Regions from separate parts of the Homo sapiens genome. Here region 1 is linked to region 2. The links come from fine-mapping of genetic effects on gene expression. A gene starts in region 2. The other region holds a variant in brackets. All regions are shown on one strand. Distances are between the middles of the regions. Region 1 holds the start of LINC02988 (long intergenic non-protein coding RNA 2988). Region 2 holds the start of C1orf56 (chromosome 1 open reading frame 56).

Region 1 (12,052 bases), 890 kb before region 2:
TCCCTAAGTCTTGGGATCAATAACGTGTACTAATGTGGAGAAATCAGAATTGCCCCTACAGTGGTTAGAAGTCATTCCATTCCCTGCCTCTGTGACTGTCCAAAGGCAGTCAGTATAGCCTGGAAGACTGTCCTGTGTACCGGTTAGAGTGGCCCTTCCTCCCGCCCTCACGGGAGGTATTCTGTGTTCCCTCACCCAGGGCTAACTGGGAAGTCCTCCCTGAGTTCTAACCTCTTCTGCTTTCTGCAGTAGACATCCTTATTCAGTAGATTATATTTAGGTAAATAAAACCTTTTATGGTATTGAAACATACACACACACACCCTGAGACAAAGTACTCATCTAAAAGAACATCTACTGAGGCATCTAGGGAAGAACTAAGCTGTGCCACAGCCAAAGAGATCCCTCTTAAGGGTATTGAAACCTAGCTGTTTACACAAAACTAGCAAGTTGGTGATGGAAAGTCTTAGGAGTGAGGTGAGGGCACTTTTCTTGGTCTGTCATCCAGGCAGGAATGCAGTGGCTCAATCACAGCTCACTTCAGCTTCCACCTCCCAGGCTCAAGTGATCCTCCCACCTCATCCTTGGAGTAGCTGGGACTACAGGTGGGTGCCACCATGTCTGGCTAGTTTTTGTATTTTTTGTAGAGACAGTGTTTCGCGTTGTTGACCAGGCTGCTCTCAAAACTCCTGGCCTCAAGTGAACCACCCGCCTCAGCCTCCCAAAGTGCTGGGATTACAGGTGTGAGCCAACCGTGCCTGGCCAGGAGGATTTATTTTTAAGAGTTACCTCTGCCCAATCACAAATCCTCCAGAAAGTTTTCTCCACAATTTTCTGGCTTTCTAAATTAAAAAAAAAAAAAAAAAAAAAAAACAAGTGTCAAAGTGTATCTCCTGTCTTCCCCGAACTTCTTAATTGCAGGAAACTCTAGTTACGAATCAGGGAGAACTTCCTACACATCAAAGAGAAAAACATAATAGTGAAAGGGTAAGAGGAATAAGACATCCATTGCTTGTTTGTATTTGCCCAAAGAGCAGAGTCTGGGGGCAAAAGCGTAGTTGATCCTTGCTTTTAGGTACAGAGACAGAGGAAAGGATGGAATGACCTCAGCCTAGGATATCTGGTGTCCTATGAGTCAGGACCATCTGACTGGTCATGGAGCCAGCTGTCTCCTGCTGGGAAGGGCACAGGAAAGAGGGACTAGGCATATTGATACTGTGCTTTTTTAGAGCCAGTTTCAATGCTACAGTGGGCCTGGTTAAAAAGTGAAATTGACAGAGTACTCTGGGCTTTATTTTGCCCACTTGTGAAAAGCTCCAGGGCCAATAGAATCAAGACACGGTGTTCTGTTTTGTTTTGTTTTTTAGAGACAGGGTCTCACTCTGTCGCCCACGCTGGAGTGCAGTGTCACAATCGTAGCTCACTGCTGCCTTGACCTCCCGGGCTTAAGCAATCCTCCCACCTCAGCCTCCGGAGTAGCTGGGACTACAGGCATGCACCACCACACCCAGCTAATTTTTTTTATTTTTTGTAGACATGGGGTCTCACTATGTTTCCCAGGCTGGTCTCAAATTCCTGGCTTCAAGTGATCCTCCTGCCTCAACCTCCTGAAATTCTGGGATTATAGGCGTGAGCCACAGTCCCTGACCAAGATTTTTTTTTTTAAGGCAGAGTATAATCTATATCATTTACTGTTAATGCAAGAAAATTTCTAACCCTATCTCCCAGAATTTTCACCAGTCTCTTTTGTTATTTCCTCTCTTAAAGGCAGGGTCTCCCACAACCACCTCTGCCGTAGAATTTCTTCTGTGTTCGATAGTAATCATTTTCTTCCTTCTCAAAGGGCATCCTCTCTCAAAGAGGGCTGGAGCACCTTATGATCACAGGCTGATGTGTAAGAACAGAAGCTAGACCTTAGGAAGACCTCATGGTGGAGGAAATTGGATTCGGGGCAACTCTTTGGACAGGCGTGGGAAAAATCCCTTTCTATAGTCAAGGACGAAGAATCAGGGGAAAGGAAGGGTTAATTTGGAAGATGGGTAGTTATAAATGAGACTCTGGGAATTAGATATGTGGGGAAAAAAAAAACAATATGGTGGAGAACAAGGCTGCTTGGCTTTGTCCATCTTCCCAGGCACTGGAATATACTTGTCCTACTGCTTGCCTCACCCCATCTCCCACCCTCTCCACCAAGGGCTAACCTCTATCAGTGTCTCCTGCTCCCCAGAGCTCCTAATCAGTCTGTATGCAAGGTAGAATAACTCCCTTTCCTTCCCTTCCCCTAAGGAAAACATAGTAAGTTAACTCTCTTCCCCTGGCTACATTCACACACCCAACACTTTCCTCTCCACGGTTTCTGGGCTCTGCTGATAGTCTCAGCTCTGGAGAAGGAGGGGGAGAGGAGGGATGATGCATCATCTTGTATCCCTGTCCCGTGTTTCTGGGAATTGCTCTTGGACACCCCTTGCCAGCACCTTGTCCTACTTCCACCCGTAATCATTCAAGGCCTCTGGCCACTTTCCAGCCCAAAGCCAGGGAACCCTGGAAAGTGGGAGGCCCTGGAGGAGCCAAGCCTTGCTGAAACAAATGGAGGTAGATGTATGAGGCGTCACTCACCTGAATGGGGCCATGTTGACATCTGTCCTCATCTGTCATCAGCCTCCAGGTCCAGCAGCAGTTCAGAAGGATGGGCAGATACAAGACTGTAGATGGTCTGGGTAATGGAAGGGAGAACCACTTCCCCACTTCCAGGTTTCCAGGAACCAGGAGGATAGATGAGTTCACCTCCATGCACACGAGTCCTATTTCAGAACTTGGGAAGTTGGGGACTGTTTTGGAAAATAATTTCAGTCAGGGTGGGTAGATGTCATCCAAGGAAGACGTGAGGCTACTTTTATCTGTTTGTTTAGTTTTAATGAGACAAGTGCTGGTGCTTTTAATTCTCATTCCAGGAAAACGTGACCAGGTTTTTCCTGAGGTGTTCCAACCCTGGGCTCAAGCCACGGAGGGTGGACAGACTGCACGGTCTGGACTTGTAACTAAGTCTCCTCTCTGTAACTTTGGTCCTTGCTAGCCAAAACAAATCCATAAGCCACTGCTTCAGAGTCCCAGAGTTGTAGGAACACCACCTTAGGGGAAAAGAGAAAACATTGTGGTCAGTTTCAGATGAACCTGCGAAGAAATGTTCCTAGAGCTGCTTTGCAGTGCTCAGAAAAGGCTAGTTGGGGTTGGAGAATGTCACTAGGAATGCGGCCTCGATGAGACGTTCAGCAGGAGTGCTAAGAGCTAAATGTTGCTTAAAACCTGCTAAAGGTGGAACCAGAGTGCGGGACGGAGACTATAGCAGGGAGGGCTAAGTTTAGATAGGAGGAAGAGCTTCCTGGCAGTAAAGGGGGCCCAGGCACTCAAACTGGAATAATGGCAAGAAGTCACAGAAGTCACTTTTTTCCAAGTCTAAAGTGTAGTCTCCCAGGGAGAGTCTAAGTGCATTCTTGCCTAGAGATAGGGGGTCTGGAGGAGTTAGTTTGGATTGTCACAGTACCTTAGAGGGAGGAGGAAAGGGTAGGAACTGTAATTGTAGTTTTCAGCTTCTCTGGACAAATTCAGCAAACTGAACACGGGGCTGCCGTCCTGTGGTGGCGATGCTCCTGAAATGAACAAGGAAGATGAGTCTCTATAATTGTACATACCAGAGAAGGAAGCGAGGTGGGGTGGGAGAGCTATACTGCACACATGTGAGTGGGGAGGCCAGAGACCGCCCCTCGTTCCCTCCAGACACCCCGATAACTGGCCCTGCCTTGATCTTCTTTCTGTGGACCATCAAGGGCCATACAGGTCTGTCTTACTGAGGGCAATGGATCAACCATCTACCATGTCCCTTTAAGGACGTGAGCCTTTTTAGAACATGTAAGCTGTGTCCTTAAGGAAAAGAGTGGGGCGGTTGGTGAAGAGAGGCATAGTGGGACTCTGGAAATGGCAGCCTGGCTAAGGAGAGTGAAGAGAAGGGGTTTAAACAGAAACACACCTTAACATTCAAGACTTGGAGCTGCCCTAGCGTCCTCCTCGATGTGAGGACCTTGTAGGCTTTGGGCAGACGGCCCTCTCCTCTCCTGGCGTGCCTCCCTCTCCTCAGGCTTCCTCTGTTTCCCAAGATGATCTAAACTAACAGTCTGGGTGGAGGGGCTAAATAATTTTATCCTCCTCACCTCACCCCAACCCTCCCCTAGGTAAAAGATGAGAAAAATATTCAAGAGGTATTTGACCTGAGTGACTATGAGAAGTGTGAAGAGCTCCGGAAGTCCAAGAGCAGGAGCAAGAAAAATCATAGCAAGTTTACTCTTGCCCACTCCAAACAGCCCGGTAACACGGTATGTTTCTCCTGCCACCTTGGCTGCTGGAACATGGACAGGGTTGGAGGGGGCAGGGGAGAACTCCTTCCCCTCAGTTTCTCTCTCAGCAATCTTGGTTCAGATTCCCTGAATTGCTCTCCTGCTGGCTTTTATCATTTCACCTGAGAATATTGTAGCCATTTCCTTCTTTCCAGGCAGGCCACCCTTTAACCTGTTCAGCCACAAAGATCATCTCTCTATATATCTCTTTATTTTTCTCTGTCTTATACACACACATCCACACATGTGCATATTTACATCCCTTAGAAGAAAATCCCTGTCCTTGTACCCTGATAGGTGGTTGAAGTTCTGAATCTAATTCATCTTGTCTGAGGGAACCCAGGGAAGTTATTCCTGTCACATTCTATTTCTTCAAACATTGAAAGATTTGTATTTTAATACCTATCCTTCATCAGACTTCCTCTAATTATCTCTAATACCATACTAATATTCAGTATCCTTCTTAGCTCCTCCTTGGTCATTTCTAAAACAACCTCCTAGCTATGCATTTTGCAGGAATAGAAGCTGGGTTTCCTTAAGTTATGGATGACTCTGGAAGCAGAATATCTCTCCTTCCTGGAGCTAGGTCTAAGAAAGTGAGATTATAATCTCTTATTTCTTCATTGTCAAGGTGAGGCACCACCTCTAAAACCCTGGCTGAAACAGGAATCTTCCCCTCACAGGCACCCAACCTGATCTTCCTGGCAGTGAGTCCAGAAGAGAAGGAATCGTGGATCAATGCCCTCAACTCTGCCATCACCCGAGCCAAGAACCGTATCTTGGATGAGGTCAGGGGGCTCACTGTGGGGAGAGGGAGGAACGCTGGGGCAGAGGGAACAGCTGTGACCCACTGAAGGGGGAGGATTGTGCAGGCCCCGTTTACTCGCTCCTCCACCAGCTCTACTTCTTTACCACCCTTTTAAAAGCCCTGATCTCTTTCTACCTTCTCTCCAAGTCTCATCTGACACCTCCTCTTCCCCGCTTCATGATGGGGGAGCCAGCCTTGGGTCAGCTTAAAGAG[C/T]CCCCTTCGTGTCCAGTAAATCCCCTTGCCCATTCAGAAGCAGTGAATGGAGTGGGCACATGTTCAGGCCTCGGGATGCTGGGTTGGGACAGCGAGTCGCTGAAGAGCACTCATGATTCACAGTACATCTCTTCAGGTCACCGTTGAGGAGGACAGCTATCTTGCCCATCCCACTCGAGACAGGGCAAAAATCCAGCACTCCCGCCGCCCCCCAACAAGGGGACACCTAATGGCTGTGGTATGTAAGACTGTAATAAACATTGCCAAAGGGCCAATTCTGTGTCAGTCCATCTCAGACAGAACTGTATGCCACCAGAGGCATTTGCGGGAGGCCTCCTTGATGCCAAGATCAAAGGCGAGGGAAGTCCTTCCACCCAATGCCTCTGCCAGATCTAAATCAAAAGGTTTTATTCAGCGCCCATTAGGAGTTCAAAAGTCCCAGCTCCCAGTAATGTTACCCTCTTTCGGAGAAAATGAGTTATACCCACAGGAAAATGAAAAATTAGCTACTGTATGGTGGCTGTCTTGATGGGTAACAACATGTAGTACCGCGGGTGTTTGGAGGAGAAAGGATCACAATGAACTCCTGAAACATACAACGTGCTAGTTTCTTTCATGCCTCTGAGCTCTTAAGTCTTCAGAGAGAGAGGCAGGCAGGTATAATGCAGAGAACACAGGCTTTGGAGTTAGAACCTGAGTTGGAACCTCACTGTAATCAGCTACCTGTGTGGTTCCCTGAAGTTGCATGTCTCCAACTGTAAAATGAGGCAGTAATCATGCCTGCCTTGAAGGGCTGCTGTGAGGAATGACTAAAACAACATATTTGGTATTGAATACTCATCATTTTTAGTATTCTGGAAATAAGAGAACAAATTTTATTATAAGGCAAGGGGGCTGAAGTGTGGGACTCAGAGGATGCAGATGGAGGAGGACAGTCGTGCCATGGGGAGCATCCTGTGTGCATCAGATGCAGTTTAATTGCTGAGAGTCCACAATACCAAGGAAGAGGGCGCCCCTCAGGAAGCTTATGGTAGAGTGGAGAATACAGGAAACAAGTAACAAACTAAATCACAGAAGAAGAAACATTCAAGTCACTATCAAAGGAATAAGAAACAGCACATTCAGTAGGAGGGTTCAGTCAAGAGCAGAGGGCTTTGCCAGGCAGGGGGGCTCACACCTGTAATCCCAGTACTTTGGGAGGCTGAGACGGTGTATCACTTGAGGTCAGGAGTTTGAGACCAGCCATGGCCAACATGGTGAAACCCTGCCTCTGCTAAAAATACAAAAAAAAAGAGCTGGGCGTGGTGGTGCACGCATGTAATCCCAGCTACTCGGGAGGCTGAGGCAGGAGAATGGCGTGAACCCGGGAGGCGGAGCTTGCAGTGAGCTCAAATCGTGCCACTGCACTCCAGCCTGGGTGACAGAGCAAGACTCTGTCTCTAAAAAAAAGTACTTCTCATTCAAGGAAGGCTTGTAGAGGAAAATGACCACAGCTTGCATCTTTTAGGCAGTCATTCCGAAAATCCCTCCTGATGACAGGTTCCCCACTCATTCCCCCCTTCCTCCACAGGCTTCCACCTCTACCTCGGATGGGATGCTGACCTTGGACTTGATCCAAGAGGAAGACCCTTCCCCTGAGGAACCAACCTCTTGTGCTGAGAGCTTTCGGGTTGACCTGGACAAGTCTGTGGCCCAGCTGGCAGGGAGCCGGCGGAGAGCGGACTCAGACCGCATCCAGCCCTCCGCAGACCGGGCAAGCAGTCTCTCCCGACCTTGGGAAAAAACAGACAAAGGGGCCACCTACACCCCCCAGGCACCCAAGAAGTTGACGCCCACAGAGAAAGGCCGCTGCGCCTCCCTGGAGGAGATCCTATCTCAGCGGGATGCTGCCTCTGCCCGCACCCTCCAGCTGCGGGCTGAGGAACCCCCAACCCCTGCCCTCCCCAACCCGGGGCAGCTGTCCCGGATCCAGGACCTGGTAGCAAGGAAACTGGAGGAGACTCAGGAGCTTCTGGCAGAGGTTCAGGGACTGGGAGATGGGAAGCGAAAGGCCAAGGACCCCCCTCGGTCTCCGCCGGATTCTGAGTCAGAGCAGCTGCTGCTGGAGACGGAACGGCTGCTGGGAGAGGCATCATCGAATTGGAGCCAGGCAAAGAGGGTGCTGCAGGAGGTCAGGGAGCTGAGAGACCTGTACAGACAGATGGACCTGCAGACCCCGGACTCCCACCTCAGACAGACCACCCCGCACAGTCAGTACCGGAAGAGCCTGATGTGAGGGCAGGGTGGGGTCTGGAACTTGTCGGGTTGGACAGACTCTTATCTCCGTGTTGCTGGATAAAGCTTTTTTATTTACCTCAATCAAAAAAAGAAAACAAAAATGAACTCATTGCTCTTGCTGATGCCTGACCCCACTACAACCCTTATTGCCCCACCTACTTTCCATATGCCCCTCGTATGCCCCTCAGGTTTGAGGAAGTGACCCCGCAGCAGTAGCAGGAAGTTTTTACCCAGCCAGAGAGAGAGAAGGCACGGTAAAGACACAGTCTGACCACTCCACACACCGCCCGCCCCCAAGACGGCACAGGGAGTCCACTGCTGCTCCCAAGGATACAGTGGGCTTCTAAGCTTAGAGCGGGAGGGGGATGAGGATGTTTTCTGTTATGTCCCACCCCAGGCCTTCAGTTTGAGGGTGAAGTTTCAGCTGCCCAACTCTAGTTGTAGGGATGTGGAGGCCAGTGTCACCTGTCCGTGCACATGGAAGTGAAATTTATCCCAGCCCTGAGGAGGATTTGTGGAATTAAAATCTCCCCAGCCAGACACTGGCTTCTCATTCCTAGCAGTCTCTCATTGAGATCGAGCTGCCTGGATTTTCTTACATGAGGTGTTTCTTCCCTTCATCTTCCACACCCTTCCCAACCTTGACTCAAAGATCCACCCTTGTCGGGCGCAGTGGCTCACGCCTGTAATCCCAGCACTTTGGGAGGCCAAGGCGGGTGGATCACCTGAGGTCAGAAGTTTGAGACCAGCCTGACCGACATGATGAAACCCAGTCTCTACCGAAAATACAAAAAATTAGCCAGGCATGGTGGTGGGCGCCTGTAATCCCAGCTATGCGGGAGGCTGAGGCAGGAGAATCACTTGAACCTGGGAGGCAGAGGTTGCAGCAAGCCAAGATTGTGCCATTGCACTCCAGCCTGGGCAACAAGAGCGAAACTCCGTCTCAAAAAAAAAAAAAAAATCCAACCTTGAGTGGATGAGACTAGTTTCATTATTTGATTCAGGGCCCTAGCACAGGGGAACTAGAGACAGACCCCACAGAAGAACTGAACTAAGAATGAAACTGGTGTGTGATGCAAGCTGGGTAGGATGAAGGGGAAAACCAAACATCTGTCCAAGTTCCTCTTTCAGCCATGCTGAGGTTTCCTGTAGCCTCCCCCTCTCCTTCCTCAAACCTCTTCCATCACTAAGCAAGTCCCCACTTTAGAAAAGCATCTGGATGCCCACGCCACCACCCTCCCAGCCACCTCTGAAGTTGCCAGGCTTCCCAACATTCTTGTCTGTGGTAGGTCCCACACAACTCACTGTTCACTCTTTCCTTGGAAGTGTGTGAGATGAGGTTTAGTAACGGTGAGGTCCCCAGAAGAGCTATGAAGGGAATAATTTGATTTTGGGAAAGAAGGGGACAGAGTCTCATGAATCAAGTAAATGAGGGGTTAAAAGCCACATTGAAGTGTGCCTTGCTAGCTGCTTGATCCTCCAAGAGCAGCGGGGCTTCACTAGAGGTAAGGGGAGGAGGGGGAGGAAACGGGGCCAAGTTACATGTAGACCTGGCCATGACGCTGCCCCGATGTTATAGGAAGATGGGATAGGAGGAAGCGGGGGAAAAACCTGTGGGAGAAACAGATTCTTCAGTCCGCATTCTTCTGCTCTAACGTCACTCCTACAACCCATGTAAGCAAAATGGGGGCCTCTGTCCCCTTTCCAGAAATCATCTCTTTCCTTCACAGCTCTTCTCTGGACCTTATCACTGCTGTTAAACCATCCCTAGGGCAGAGGAATTCTTGCTCTCTCTAGTCCCTTGCCACTCTGTCATGGAGATTGTCCCCAGCTCTAGACTGTAGTTACCTAGCCTCTTCCTTGAAGAATGTGTATCCCAGTTGAGTGAGGGAAAGTGTGCAAGAGTGCCACCTTCATGTCATTCTATGGTCTCTTGGGGTATGAGGTGAGAACCCAGGCTTCCAGACTTCCTGTCCTTCAAATAGCTGCACTCTCCACAGCCCTAAGCATGGTCAGCAGAGCCATCCATTGTCACAAGTATTGAAGTCTAAGGTAGAATTATGCTTTCTTTTTACAAGTCTCTATCTTTGTATTTTACCAGCATTTTTCCTTTTCTTTTTTTCTTCCTTGTTGCTCCCACATAATGAAAAAAGACAAAAGCACAAATGACATGTGTATCCCAACATGTCAATTATCTGTGGCTCCCAGGGGAGCCAGAAGATGGAGGGAGACACTAGAGAGGAGAATGACAGGTGAAAGAAGCAGAAAAGAAAGATCGGGGACCTCACAACAGTAAGAGAGGAGCTGGGCACTGTGCTCCTGGGCTTCAGGCTCTAAAACCAACAGCTTCCAGTTCTCCAGCAGTTACTGGAACATCCAGGCCCTAGGGTGGTGAAATGAGCCCAGCTTTGAAACCAGATGGATCTGGATTCAAATTCTAACTCTGTTACTTCTTGATTATGAGGCTCTGGGCAAGGCACATGCTTTCCGAGTATCAGTTTTTTTCATCTGCAAGCTGCAGAGCTATTGGATGGGTGAGGACAATATGGAAAATGCCTGTCAGTCAGAAAGTGACCACTGCAGCTACTGTTACTGGTTTGACTCTGGGCAGTGAGCCGCTAGCTCAGTTGGAAGGAGCACTGTGTGAATGAGGCCACCGGGGTGGGGTCACTGTCACTTAGCTAGATCCAGGCCACAGGCTGTGCTGGACCTCTCTCTTCAGAGGAGAGAGCCAGAAGGGATGAAAGCATGGTCCCTGGTCTTCAAGAACTTTAGAGCTTAGCATGGAACCAGGCTTCCCACTAGAAAAATCGCTTAAGGTGCACCCTTGTGGTAGGCTGCTGGCATGAGTTCTGTTGAAGCATTTGTATTGAACCTGGGCACTGTGACAGGAGGATGGGAAGGTGCTTACGTTCATTTCCCTTCCTCCCAGTGCTTCTCCTCCCTCACTTCATCATTTTAGCCCCTCTGCCTGCAATATTTCCCTTCCGTGCCCCCGGTAACTGTGATGCGTGGCAAATGGGCTGGCTCAGTAGCTGTGTGGGGCAACTTTCTCAGCACACAGCTGCCCCCAGACACTTTCAGGGTGCACTTATTCTCCCTCCCTTTCCACTCCCAACCGCTCTGCTCCCTTCTTTTCTTACACAGATGAAGCAAAGGGAAGTGCCCTCCGGAGGCCCTAGGATGGGGAGACGGGGTAAGGGGTGGAACCCAGGACACAGAGTTGAGAGGGGGTGAGGGGTAGAGGCAGGTAAAGAACGAAATCTTAATTCTCATTTCAGTGACACTTTCCTCAACTTTTCCTGTCCTTCCCCATCAGGTTGTTAGCCAGGGGCCTGAGGAGGGATAAAGGAACTGCAGTCCCGGCTCCCTCCATTAGGAAGAATGTCTGGGGTGTTGGCCTGGAACGCTGATGAGTTGATTTCCTTCTATCTCCACAGCATAGGTTTACCAGGGAGAAAAGAAAGGTGCAAATTTCTCTAACTCCTGCCCTGGTCCTCACATACTATGCGGTTCTGAGCCTAGAGCTCTGTCCCTGGGGAAACAGCTCTCGCCTCCTTCCCCAGCCGCTCTCCCAACCCCTCTGCCAGTAATAAATTTGCCTCATTCTCCCAGGAAATGAGTCTCTAAGAATCTCTCTTCTATCTAAACCTCACAGGCAAGCAGTCCCAGCCCACTTCTGCAACCCTCAAGCTCAGCTACTGCCCCCACCCCCCACTTCGTCACTCCCTTCTCTACGCTGGGTTCCTTTCTCTTTCTGCTTTCTTACTACCTCCCTGTCTCCCAACAGGAGCAGCCAATCCCCAGCCTGCTCTAGAGCCACGCCATATATGGAGAGGTTGGAAAGAAACCCGAGTAAATGCAGGAGCGAACACACACACACACTCATACTCATGCACATACTCATGCACACACAGCAGAGTTTGACCGCCTTTCTGCATGTGACCCTGTGTCTATTTGTCTCTGTGTGACACAAGTCCCACCCACAGAATGAGGAGGCTGTTTGCTATTCCCCACCTTTAGTCGTGCCCCAGGAGACCATCACTCCAACCCGTTGCCTCTGACCTAGATTCCTTGCACTAATTACAAGCCTAACAAGAGCTAACAAACACCCCACTTAGAACAGCTGAGACCCTCGAGGTCAATTAGTGCAGCCCAGCTCTGCTCAGGAAATGAGAGATAGAGCCAGAAAGTCTTGTACATGGCCCACCCCAACCTCACCCCAACCCTGGGGTTGGAAGCAAGGATGGGGAGAATGCAAAAATTAGCAGGACCAGTTTAAAAACGGGGTTTTGGAGGGTTAAAAAGTGTGGAGAACACACTTGTTAAGTGCATTAAGGTTGGGGAGCAATTGGAGAATACAGAT
Region 2 (11,420 bases):
GAAACCCTATTTCTACAAAAAAAATTTTTTTTAAATTGGCTGGGCTTTGTGGCACAGACCTGTAGTCCCAGCTACTTGGGAGGCTGAGGTGGGAGGATCACCTGAGCCTGGGAAGTAGAGGTTGTAGTGAGCCAAGATCATGCCACTCCACTCCAGCCTGGAAGACAGAGTGAGACCCTGTCTCAAAAAAAAAGGTAGAGAAGAAAGGAAAGCTTGCTCTAGCAGTGGTATAGAGGGTCTATTGGAAAAAAACAGACTAGAGGCAGGGAAAGCAGTAAGGAGGCTAGTACCAAGGCCAGGTGAGAAATACTAAGAACCCAAACCAGGATAGCAGTAGTGGAAAGGATGATGAAAGAATATCATAGAGATAGATGGATCACAATCTGGAGTCCAGTTCATTTCAGGGCTGATAGAGAAGAAAGAGTTTCACATGACATGCAGTTTTCTCACTAGCCAGGCATGCTGATGTGTACCCATAGCCCTAGCTACTTGGGAAGCTGGGGTGGGAGTATCACTTGAGCCCAGGAGGTCAAAGCTGCAGTGAGCAAAGGTCGAGCCACTGTACTCCAGCTTGGATAGCAGAGTGAGTCCCTGTCTCTAAAAGAAAACAACAACAACAACAATAATAATAATATAATTTTCTCATTCAGGCAGCTACATGGATTCAGTCATTCATCAATACAGGAAATATGGCTGGGCACGGTGGCTCATGCCTGTAATCCTAGCACTTTGGGATGCCAAGGCAGGTAGATCACCTGAGGTCAGGAGTTTGAGACAAGCCTGGCCAACATGGCAAAACCTCGTCTCTACTAAAAATACAAAAAATTCGCCACACATGGGGGCGTGCACCTGTAGTACCAGCTACTCGGGAGGCTGAGGCAGGAGAATCACTTGAACCTGGGAGGCGGAGGTTGCAGTGAGCCAAGATCGCACCACTGCACTCCAGCCTGGGCAACAGAGCAAGACTCCATCTCAGAAAAAAAAAGGAAATAGGAAATATGAGGGAGAATAAGAAGAATAATTTATTTATTATTATTATTATTATTTTTGAGACAGAGTCTCACTCTTGTTGCCCAGGCTGTATTATTATTATTTTTTTAGAGACAAAGTCTCACTCTGTCACCCAGGCTAGAGTGCAGTGGTATGATCATAGTTCACTGCAGCCTTGAACTCCTGGGCATGAGTGATCTTCCCACCTTGGCCTCCCAAAGCAGAAAAGAATGATTTTGAGTTCCATTTTTTTGTTGTTGTTGTTATTGTTTTGTAATTTGTAATTTTATTATTTTTTAAATTTTTTGTAAAGATGAGGTCTCACTTTGTTGCCCAGGCTGGTCTCAAACTCCTGGCTTCAAGCAATCTTCCTGCCTTGGCCTCCCAAAGTGCTGGGATTACAGGCACGAGCCATTGAGCACAACCTTGAGTTCCCTTTTGAATCTGGTGATTTGTTGATGACAAGCAGACACGAAGTGAAGATGTACACTCTAGGCATTTAGGGATACGGCTAGAGTCAAAACAGAAGCCTGGGTTAGAGGCTAGGTGTGGTAGCTCATGCCTCTAATCCCAGCATTTTGGGAGGCCAAGGTGGACTGATTGCTTTGAACTCAGGAGTTCAAGACCAGCCTAGGCAACACGGCAAAACCCTGTTTCTACAAAAAATACAAAAATTAGCTGGGCATGGTGGTGCATGCCTGTAGTTCCAGCTACATGGGAGCCTGAAGCTAGAGAATCGCTTGAGCCCAGGAAGTGGAGGTTGCAGTGAGCTGAGATCCCACCACTGCACTCCAGCCTGGGTGACAGAGTGAGACTCTGTCTCAAAAAAAAGGAAAAAAAAAAAGAATCAAGGAAAAAATTGAGTAATGACAGATTAGAGTAACAAACTAGGAATCTGAGGAAGTTACAAAAAACTGAAGGTAGGAAATCTGCCTTGTTGATCCTTCCCCATCCCTCTCTTTTAGATGAACTACCCCGGGCAGAGGGTCTGGGCACCAGTGAGACAGCTGAAAGGCTGGGCCGAGGTTGTATGTGGGATGTGACTGGAGAAGATGGACATCACTGGAGGGTGTTCCGAATGGGACCACGGGAGCAGCGCGTAGACATGACTGTCATTGAGCCCTATAAGAAAGTCCTGTCTCATGGAGGTAATGGCTAGCATAATGCAGGTGTTAAGAGCTATGGCTTCTTAATAAAATGCCTAAGCTGGAGACTCAGTCATTGGATCCAAAATCTATCCTGGAACTTCCAGAGACCCTCAGAGTCCCTCAACTTAAACAGATATACTATCTGTCAATACATATTTGTTGACCAAATGAATTTTCCCCTTACACTCTCCAGGTTACCACGGTGATGGCCTCAATGCTGTCATCCTTTTTGCTTCCTGTTATCTACCCAGAAGCAGCATCCCCAACTACACCTATGTCATGGAACACTTGTTTAGGTGAGGTGGAAGGCCTGAAGGGCTACAGGGCAGTGTTAGGGAGGGAAAAGTAAAAAAGAACTCCTTCAAAGATCAGTAGCTGATGGGAGAGTCTACAGTAATGTTCCTCTCACTCTCTGAAGCCCCTAACACATACCTTCCCTGCAATTTCATCCCCCCAGGTATATGGTGGGAACTCTGGAGCTGCTAGTAGCTGAAAATTACCTGCTTGTTCATTTGAGTGGAGGCACAAGCAGGGCCCAAGTTCCACCTCTAAGCTGGATACGTCAGTGTTACCGTACCCTGGATCGGCGGTGAGACCTGGGATGAGAGGGCTACAACTCTCTATCTCATCTTTTTTTCCCCATCTTTCTATTATTTCTTCTTCCATTTAGTCCTTTTCCTATTTTCTTTGTCCTTTTACGTTCCTTTCCCAGCTCTTTTGTCTTCTGTCTTCTCTTGGAGTCAAGGAAATCTAGCTTCAAATCCTGCTGTTACCACATTACTGTTTACTAGCTGTATGGCTTTGGACAAGTCACTTAACCTCTCTGGGCTTCAGCTTCAGTTTTTTTGTTTTTTTGTTTTTTTTGAGACAGGATCTGGCTGTGTCATCCAGACTGGAGTGCAGTGGCACGATCTCGGCTCACTGCCACCTCTGCCTGCCAGGCTCAAGCGATCCTCCCACCTCAGCCTCCCAAGTAGCTGGGACTACAGGCATGGGCCACCATGCCCAGCTAACTTTTGTATTTTTTGTAGAGATGGAGTTTCACCATTTTGCCCAGGCTGGTCTCAAACTCCTGAGCTCAAGTGATCTGCCTGCCTCCACCTCCCAAAATGCTGAGATTATAGGCATGAGCCACTGCACCCGGCCACTTCAGCTTCTTTATCTGTAAAATGGCAATAGTTATACTTTTGCCACTGGGTATTTGTGAAAATCGAGTAAATTAGTGTGGCATATTGCCTGGCACACAGAAAGCACTCTTCTCTCAGTCTTGCCATTTATTTCCCTTTCCACACCTCCATTATCTTCTTCTCTGCCTTCATCACTGACCTATGTGTCTTCTCTGTCACCAGGCTGCAGTGCAGTGGTAAGATCTTGGCTCGCTGCAGCCTCTCCCTCCCTGGCTCAAGCCATCCTCCCACCTCAGCCTTCCAAGTAGCTGGGAGTACAGGCATGCGCCACCACCATGCCTAGCTAATTTTTGTATTTTTGTTGTTGTTGTTAGAGACAGGGTTTTGCCATGTTTCTCAGGCCAGTCTTGAACTCCTGAGCTCAGGTGATCTGCCTGCTTTGGCCTCCCAAAGTGCTGGGATTACAGGTGTGAGCCACTGTGCCTGGCCCTGTGTCTTCTTTTCCTTCTCAGGTTTTTTTTTTTTCCCCTTTTGGTTCCCCCATCTCCATTTGCTCACATTTCTCTTCTTGCCCCCTTTCCTTTTTTCGTCCTTGCTGGTCTTCTTCCACCTAGAGTTTTATAAGTAATCTTGGTCATGGAGCGATGTAGAAGCATGCAAAAGGAACTTACGCGAGGGTAGAGCACAAGATGGAAATGGAGCAGAAAAAGACCAGGTGGTCGGGCGCGGTGGCTCACGTCTGTAATCCCAGCACTTTGGAAGGCCGAGGTGGGCGGATCACAAGGTCAGGAGTTCAAGACCAGCCTGGCCAACATGGTGACAAGTCATTATCTCTACTAAAAAAATACAAAAATTAGCTGGGCATGGTGGCATGTGCCTATAATCCCAGCTACTCGGGAGGCTGAGGCAGGAGAATCACTTGAACCCGGGAGGTGGAGGGTTGCAGTGAGCCGAGATCGAGCCACTGACTCCAGCCTGGCGACAGAGTGAGATTCCATCTCAAAAAAAAAAAAAAAAAAAAAAAATCCGGGCGCGATGGCTCACACCTGTAATCCCAGCACTTTGGGAGGCCGAGGCGGGCAGATCACGAGGTCAGGAGATCGAGACCATGGTGAAACCCCGTCTCTACTAAAAATACAAAAAATTAGCCGGGCACGGTGGCGGGCGCCTGTAGTCCCAGCTACTCAGGAGGCTGAGGCAGGAGAATGGCATGAACCCGGGAAGCAGAGCTTACAGGGAGCTGAGATAGTGCCACTACACTCCAGCCCAGGCGACAGAGTGAGACTCCGTCTCAAAAAAAAAAAAAAAAAAAAATCTTGAGAGTTTTTTTAAAAATGAGGATCATGGAGGGCTAAATAAGATGGGTGGAGCTGAGATTACAGCTGACGGAATGGGGATTAGACCCAAGTACCAGATAAATCTAGAAACTAGAGAAGTGAATGAAGGAAGTTACAGTACAGAAAACAGTTCCACGTGATCTTCACACATAAAGGTGGAAGAAGAAATAGGATGATCTCATGTTGTTTTTCAGGCTACGGAAAAACCTGCGAGCCCTGGTGGTTGTCCATGCTACATGGTATGTGAAAGCATTTCTGGCACTGCTTCGGCCCTTCATCAGGTACTAGTTCTAGGAACAAGGACTCCTTTCTCCTTCCCCCCATTTTCAAAATCAAGATTAAGATCTTTCTCCACCTTGATTCTTTCTAGCCTTAACCACTCTACTTCTACATTTTTCTTTGCAAGGATTTTTGGGAACCCTTCTCCCAATACAAAACACAGTTGATTTATTCTCTCTTTTCAGTTCCAAATTCACACGAAAAATCCGTTTTCTGGACAGCCTGGGGGAGCTGGCCCAACTCATATCCCTGGATCAAGTCCACATCCCTGAAGCTGTCAGACAGTGAGTTTCACACTTAAGAATAAAGCCTTGGGGTGGGATGTGTAAAGCCAATCTCTACTTTTTTAATGCCTTGGGGGACATACAAAAGAACGAAAAGCTAGAGGGCCCTGTTTTCGGGTGCTTTAATGTATATGGGGAAACTGCACACACCCAGAGAAGAAATGAAGGACACTACTGCATCCAACAAGAATAAATGAAAAAAAAAAAAAACCTATACATATAAGTGCAGAGGCAATAAGGAATAAAGGAATAATCACAGTGCAGAGGAGATTCAGACTGGCCCTAGAAATTAGGAAGAGATGTGTTGGCAGTGAACAGATGATATCCAGTGGGGGAGAGGGTGTTAGGGAGCAAAAGTGCTAAATGATGACTCAACCCAATCATCTAGCTCTTCCAATTCACCTGGCTTCTCTCCCCAAACCAGAAAATAAAACCCAAGTCCTACCCCCTGAACCACTTCTCTCCTCCCCCTCTCCCTCTCCTAGGCTGGACCGGGATCTCCATGGCTCAGGAGGGACATAGCACAGGACTGGATAAAAGGCCTTAGAACCAGTTAGTGATCTGCCTACACCTGAATCCCTGAAACATCTGAACTGTTTTGTAAATCATCTTATCCCCAACCTCAGTACCACCGGATCTTCACTTCTCAGTGGGATTTTGTCCTTTGCATGACCCTACTTTCAGCAGGGCTTTGAGGCTGGGAAACTGATCTGCTGGGTGACTTTCATTCCAGTTGCTGGGACGGAAGGCTGAATGTAGGGTCATTTTGTATGGGATATGCAGAGCTCTGGGTTTTTTTGTTTTTTGTTTTTTGAGACGGAGTCTCGCTCTGTCGCCAGGCTGGAGTGCAGTGGTGCGATCTCGGCTCACTGCAACCTCCGCCTCCCGGTTCAAGCCATTCTTCTGCCTCAGCCTCAGCGAGTAGCTGAGACTACCGGCGCACGCCACCACGCCCAGCTAATTGTTTTGTATTTTTAGTAGAGACGGGGTTTCACCATGTTGGCCAGGATGGTCTCGATCTCTTGACCTCGTGATCTGCCCGCCTCGGCCTCCCAAAGTGCCGAGATTACAGGTGTGAGCCACCGCGCTCGGCCAGAGCTCTGGGTTTTAATCCTACTTTAGCTGTAGAACCTTGGGCAAATAACTTCATCTTTTTGGGTCCTAATTTTCCTCCTGTCTAACTGGAGGGACTGTGATCCTTCCACCTTGGATGGAAGAGGCTTACCTGACAGCCAGCCTGCCTGCTGGGAGCCAGGAGAGTCAGCTCATTAAATCTTGAAGAACCGCTGTATGCCCTTTTTCCTTCTAAGTCATGTCTGCTGCCTGTGAGCCTGGGAAGGAGTGCTTTCAAAACCTGTATTTTTGCCCTCTTTAGTAAATTTAGAACTGTAGAGGCTAATAAACTGCGATGAGACATTTAAGCTCTGCTCCAAAGAAGTGAACGACTCTTTCACCACCCCTTGCATCCCAAACCTTCGGTTCTGGCAGAGTTCTTGCCGCAGAGGTTCCTTAGGAGCACCCCGCGCGGCCCGCGCGAGCGCGCCTGCGCGTCGAACCCCACCCCCTTCCCCGCGGGCCTCGGTTCAAACGACCCGGTGGGTCTACAGCGGAAGGGAGGGAGCGAAGGTAGGAGGCAGGGCTTGCCTCACTGGCCACCCTCCCAACCCCAAGAGCCCAGCCCCATGGTCCCCGCCGCCGGCGCGCTGCTGTGGGTCCTGCTGCTGAATCTGGGTCCCCGGGCGGCGGGGGCCCAAGGCCTGACCCAGACTCCGACCGAAATGCAGCGGGTCAGTTTACGCTTTGGGGGCCCCATGACCCGCAGCTACCGGAGCACCGCCCGGACTGGTCTTCCCCGGAAGACAAGGATAATCCTAGAGGACGAGAATGATGCCATGGCCGACGCCGACCGCCTGGCTGGACCAGCGGCTGCCGAGCTCTTGGCCGCCACGGTGTCCACCGGCTTTAGCCGGTCGTCCGCCATTAACGAGGAGGATGGGTCTTCAGAAGAGGGGGTTGTGATTAATGCCGGAAAGGATAGCACCAGCAGAGAGCTTCCCAGTGCGACTCCCAATACAGCGGGGAGTTCCAGCACGAGGTTTATAGCCAATAGTCAGGAGCCTGAAATCAGGCTGACTTCAAGCCTGCCGCGCTCCCCCGGGAGGTCTACTGAGGACCTGCCAGGCTCGCAGGCCACCCTGAGCCAGTGGTCCACACCTGGGTCTACCCCGAGCCGGTGGCCGTCACCCTCACCCACAGCCATGCCATCTCCTGAGGATCTGCGGCTGGTGCTGATGCCCTGGGGCCCGTGGCACTGCCACTGCAAGTCGGGCACCATGAGCCGGAGCCGGTCTGGGAAGCTGCACGGCCTTTCCGGGCGCCTTCGAGTTGGGGCGCTGAGCCAGCTCCGCACGGAGCACAAGCCTTGCACCTATCAACAATGTCCCTGCAACCGACTTCGGGAAGAGTGCCCCCTGGACACAAGTCTCTGTACTGACACCAACTGTGCCTCTCAGAGCACCACCAGTACCAGGACCACCACTACCCCCTTCCCCACCATCCACCTCAGAAGCAGTCCCAGCCTGCCACCCGCCAGCCCCTGCCCAGCCCTGGCTTTTTGGAAACGGGTCAGGATTGGCCTGGAGGATATTTGGAATAGCCTCTCTTCAGTGTTCACAGAGATGCAACCAGTAAGTGTTTGGTGATGAGCCAGGGTCTTTGTTGACGGATCTGAAAAGTCCTGGTATCTAAAACCCAGTTGCTAAGCCAGCCAGTGTTGCTTACATGAACTGTTACTGACTTACCTGGTTATTGATTCATAACATGCATTGGTTATTCACATTGTTAGCCATTGATTCCACCTATTATTTATTGAGCAACTACTGGTTGGTCATTAGGTAAAATGTCTTACTGCTCATTAGGTGATTATTGACCAAATAGTTAAGATTGGAAATATTTTTTTTTTTCAAGACAAGAGTTTCACTCTTATTGCCGAGGCTGGAGTGCAATGGCGTGATCCTGGCTCACTGCAACCTCTGCCTCCCAGGTTCAAACAATTCTCCTGCCTCAGCCTCTTGAGTAGCTGGGATTACAGGCACCCACCACCATGCCCGGCTAATTTTTTTTTTTTTTTTAGAAGAGACAGCATTTTACCATGTTGGCCAGGCTGGTCTAGAACTCCTGACCTCAAGTGATCCACCCGCCTCGGCCTCCCAAAGTGCTGGGATTATAGGCATGAGCCACCATGCCTGGTCTTGGAAATTCTCTGTTTTTTTCACAGACAAGATCTCGCTATGTTGCCCAGGCTGGTCTTAAACTCCTGGGCTCAAGCAATTCTCCTGCCTCAGCCTTCCAAAGTGCTGGGATTACAGGCATGAGCTACTGTGCCCCTGACCATAAGACTTTTTTTTCGAGACAGGGTCTCTCATCACTCAGGCTGGAGTGTGGTGGCGCAGTCACAACTCACTGCACCCTCCATCTTCTGGGCTCAAGCAATCCTCCCACCTTAGCCTGCTGAATAGCTGGGACTACAGACGTGCACCACCATGCCTGGCTAACAAGATCTCGCTATGTTGCCCAGGCTGGTCTCCAACTCCTGAGCTCAAGGATCTGCCCACCTTGGCCTTCCAGAATTCTGGGATTACAGACATGAGCCACTGTGCCCGGCCCATAAAGTCTTTTTGATGCACAGATAATTAACAGATATGAAGGATCTTAATCAATTAATAGTTTTGACCTAATACAGCTTAACAGCAACAAGTGCCAAAATTTGAGGTCTTACTATGTGCACTTTACCTGAATCGATCCTCACATCCTATGAGGTATTATTATCCCTGCTTTTCAGATGAAGAAACTGAGGTTTACAAAGCTAGTAAGTGGCAGAGCCACGAGATTTAAACCAGGTTTGACACCAGTGCCCACTCTCTTCACCACTACCATTTGGGAGTACTGTCCTTCCAGGACAAGGAAGGATAGTCCTCTGCTTTTCCCAGAATTAGCAAAGGTTCTGATTGACTTGATAAGGTAGTCTCAATTGATACGGATGATAGGACTTTGAGGAGGGAAAGGTAATAAAGCTTACACTTGGTCATTTTGCTTGTTTCTGTTTTTCTCCTTGTGTGTCCAATACCATTATTGCATACAAAAATAAGTAAGGGGTGGGCAGTAGGGTTGAGGGAATATGGGTTTGTGGGAGGGGGAGATGAAGCAAGGAAGGGAAAAGAATATAGATGTGGTTGTAATTTCCCTTTTTCTCTATTTTTTTTTCTTACGCAGATAGACAGAAACCAGAGGTAATGGCCACTTCATCCACATGAGGAGATGTCAGTATCTCAACCTCTCTTGCCCTTTCAATCCTAGCACCCACTAGATATTTTTAGTACAGAAAAACAAAACTGGAAAACACATTGTTTGGTCTTGTGTTTCTTTACAGAGGTACCTGAGGGAGGAGAGACATAAATCCCTTCATCCCTAAGACTGAACTATGTAACTAGCAGCCTCTGGCTTGTTTTCTACTCCCTGTCCCTCAGGATAAAATGTTGATATTGCTCATTTTCCTCATTTCCAACATTGTTTTAAAACAAGTACTTCTTTTACAGGCTTGAAAAATCTCAAATAAACGCTAAGAAAAGGGAGTAGGAAGAACAAGGAGTTGAGCCCTTGAAAGATGACAGTGGTCTTCTTGCCTTCATGCTTGGCCCTCTCTCCTCAAAAGGGCAATGTTGGTACAAAATTCCATCTCAGCCACTTTCGAGGAGTTATCTTCATTAGCTATATCCATCCTTTAATCCAACACACACCTGCAATGATTACTGTGCAACTATTTTGCTTAATTTTTTATTTGAAAAAATGTATTTAAAAGTCCAACAACTTTTTAATATAAATTACGACTCTCAAACCCATTCCCATCACTTTATTAGTGATGGTAGCATACATATTAGAGAAGGTAGCTAAAGGCAAGAGAGCACCAAAGGAAAAAGACTGTCCAAAGAACAGGTATTAGAATGAGGCCGAAGATCACGGTGACCAGAGATTTCTAGGAGTCTCTAACCTTTCCACCCTATCCTGTTAACCCTTTAGATCTCTAGTATAACACTCAGGCTACTGAGGTATTTTAGAGCAACAAGCTGGGTTACTTTCAGAGCAACCAGCTTGACTGGAACTGAGAGTAAATTGGGAATGTATGACCAATCTTAGACCCTGAAAAATGGCAGAAAATACATGGAAATTTGAAAAAAAAAAAAAAAAAAAAAAAAAAAGAACCTCAGTCACTGTTCTGTAGGGATAAGCAAACTGAATGGGTGGTGGAATTGGCAGAATGGATACCAGTTCCTACATTCCTGACCCCACTACCATAAAACAGGATGTTTCCTGTTGCAAAGCTAATGAGACCCCACCCTTCTTGTCTCAGAGCAGGCAGGAGCTCATCTGTCTTGTTCTGCCTTCCTAATTACCCTGGAAGGGCCAGAACGAAGAACACCTGAGAATACTGAAAGTGCCTAAAAACCCCTGCTCCTACGTTGTTTTCCCATTTAAAGCAGACTCTTCAGCCAGGGGGCAGTGGGACCTGGTCTTCAGACAAAACTCCCTGAGTCTAATGTGTGTCTAGGACTAGGGCACAGAAATAGAGCTTAAAATTTGGGGAGGATAAGGAGTGTATCTACTGCTTCTCTCTCCCCTTTCCCCAATCCTACCATACCCTGTTCATATCTCTACACTGCAGGAACCACTTCTCCAGAGGGCAAGAATGGAGGAGGGGGACCTGTCCATCATAGCAACATGCAAACACAAGCAAAACACTGAATAAAGAATTGTTTGGAGATTATGTGCAGCCCTACTGAGCCTCATTTATATGGGCTCCTAGTTGATCCATGGCTCGGGCTTAAGATGAGTAAGATGATGAGGGTAGCGTGCCAAGCAGAAATCACTTCAGAGAAAAATATCTTGACTTTAGAGTTGTGGTTCTCAAATGGAGGCGATTTTGCCCCCTAGGAGAAATCTGGCAATGTATAGAGACATTTTTGGTTGTCATAACTAGAGTGGGCCAGGGTTGCTGCTAAATATCCTGTAATGCACAAAATAGGAAACAGGTTTTCCTTACAAAGAACACTTCAGCCCAAAATGTCAAAGGCATCTCGGTTGTGAAACCTTGTTCTAGAGCCTCTCCCTGCTCCCGTGCTGTGAGGATCTTAAGACTCCTAAACTCACAGATGATTGTTTTCAACCTATTTATCTCACCATCCTCAATGATCAGAAGTC

The links.
Region 1: its variant is fine-mapped to the expression of C1orf56 in sun-exposed skin (GTEx, PIP 0.97).

Annotation. Positions count from the first base shown.
Region 1 is chr1:150,151,840-150,163,891 of GRCh38, forward strand. It overlaps PLEKHO1 (pleckstrin homology domain containing O1), which reads left to right. Exons shown (of 6, transcript NM_016274.6): 3 at 4,227-4,367; 4 at 5,072-5,176; 5 at 5,546-5,647; 6 at 6,980-8,226. The coding sequence ends at 7,684. LINC02988 (long intergenic non-protein coding RNA 2988) reads left to right here and starts at 8,889. Exons shown (of 4, transcript NR_135098.1): 1 at 8,889-8,971. RefSeq lists enhancers at 7,017-7,518, 8,649-8,958, 11,307-11,496 and silencers at 7,819-7,868, 9,569-9,638, 10,227-10,296. The variant C/T (reference allele first, on the strand shown) is at 5,410.
Region 2 is chr1:151,041,001-151,052,420 of GRCh38, forward strand. It overlaps C1orf56 (chromosome 1 open reading frame 56), which reads left to right and starts at 6,751. Exons shown (of 2, transcript NM_017860.5): 1 at 6,751-7,852; 2 at 9,438-10,420. The coding sequence starts at 6,848. The coding sequence ends at 9,458. BNIPL (BCL2 interacting protein like) reads left to right here. Exons shown (of 10, transcript NM_138278.4): 5 at 1,956-2,138; 6 at 2,332-2,434; 7 at 2,596-2,727; 8 at 4,797-4,883; 9 at 5,067-5,165; 10 at 5,651-6,720. The coding sequence ends at 5,687. It overlaps CDC42SE1 (CDC42 small effector 1), which reads right to left. Exons shown (of 5, transcript NM_020239.4): 5 at 9,985-11,420. RefSeq lists enhancers at 7,079-7,128, 7,409-7,648.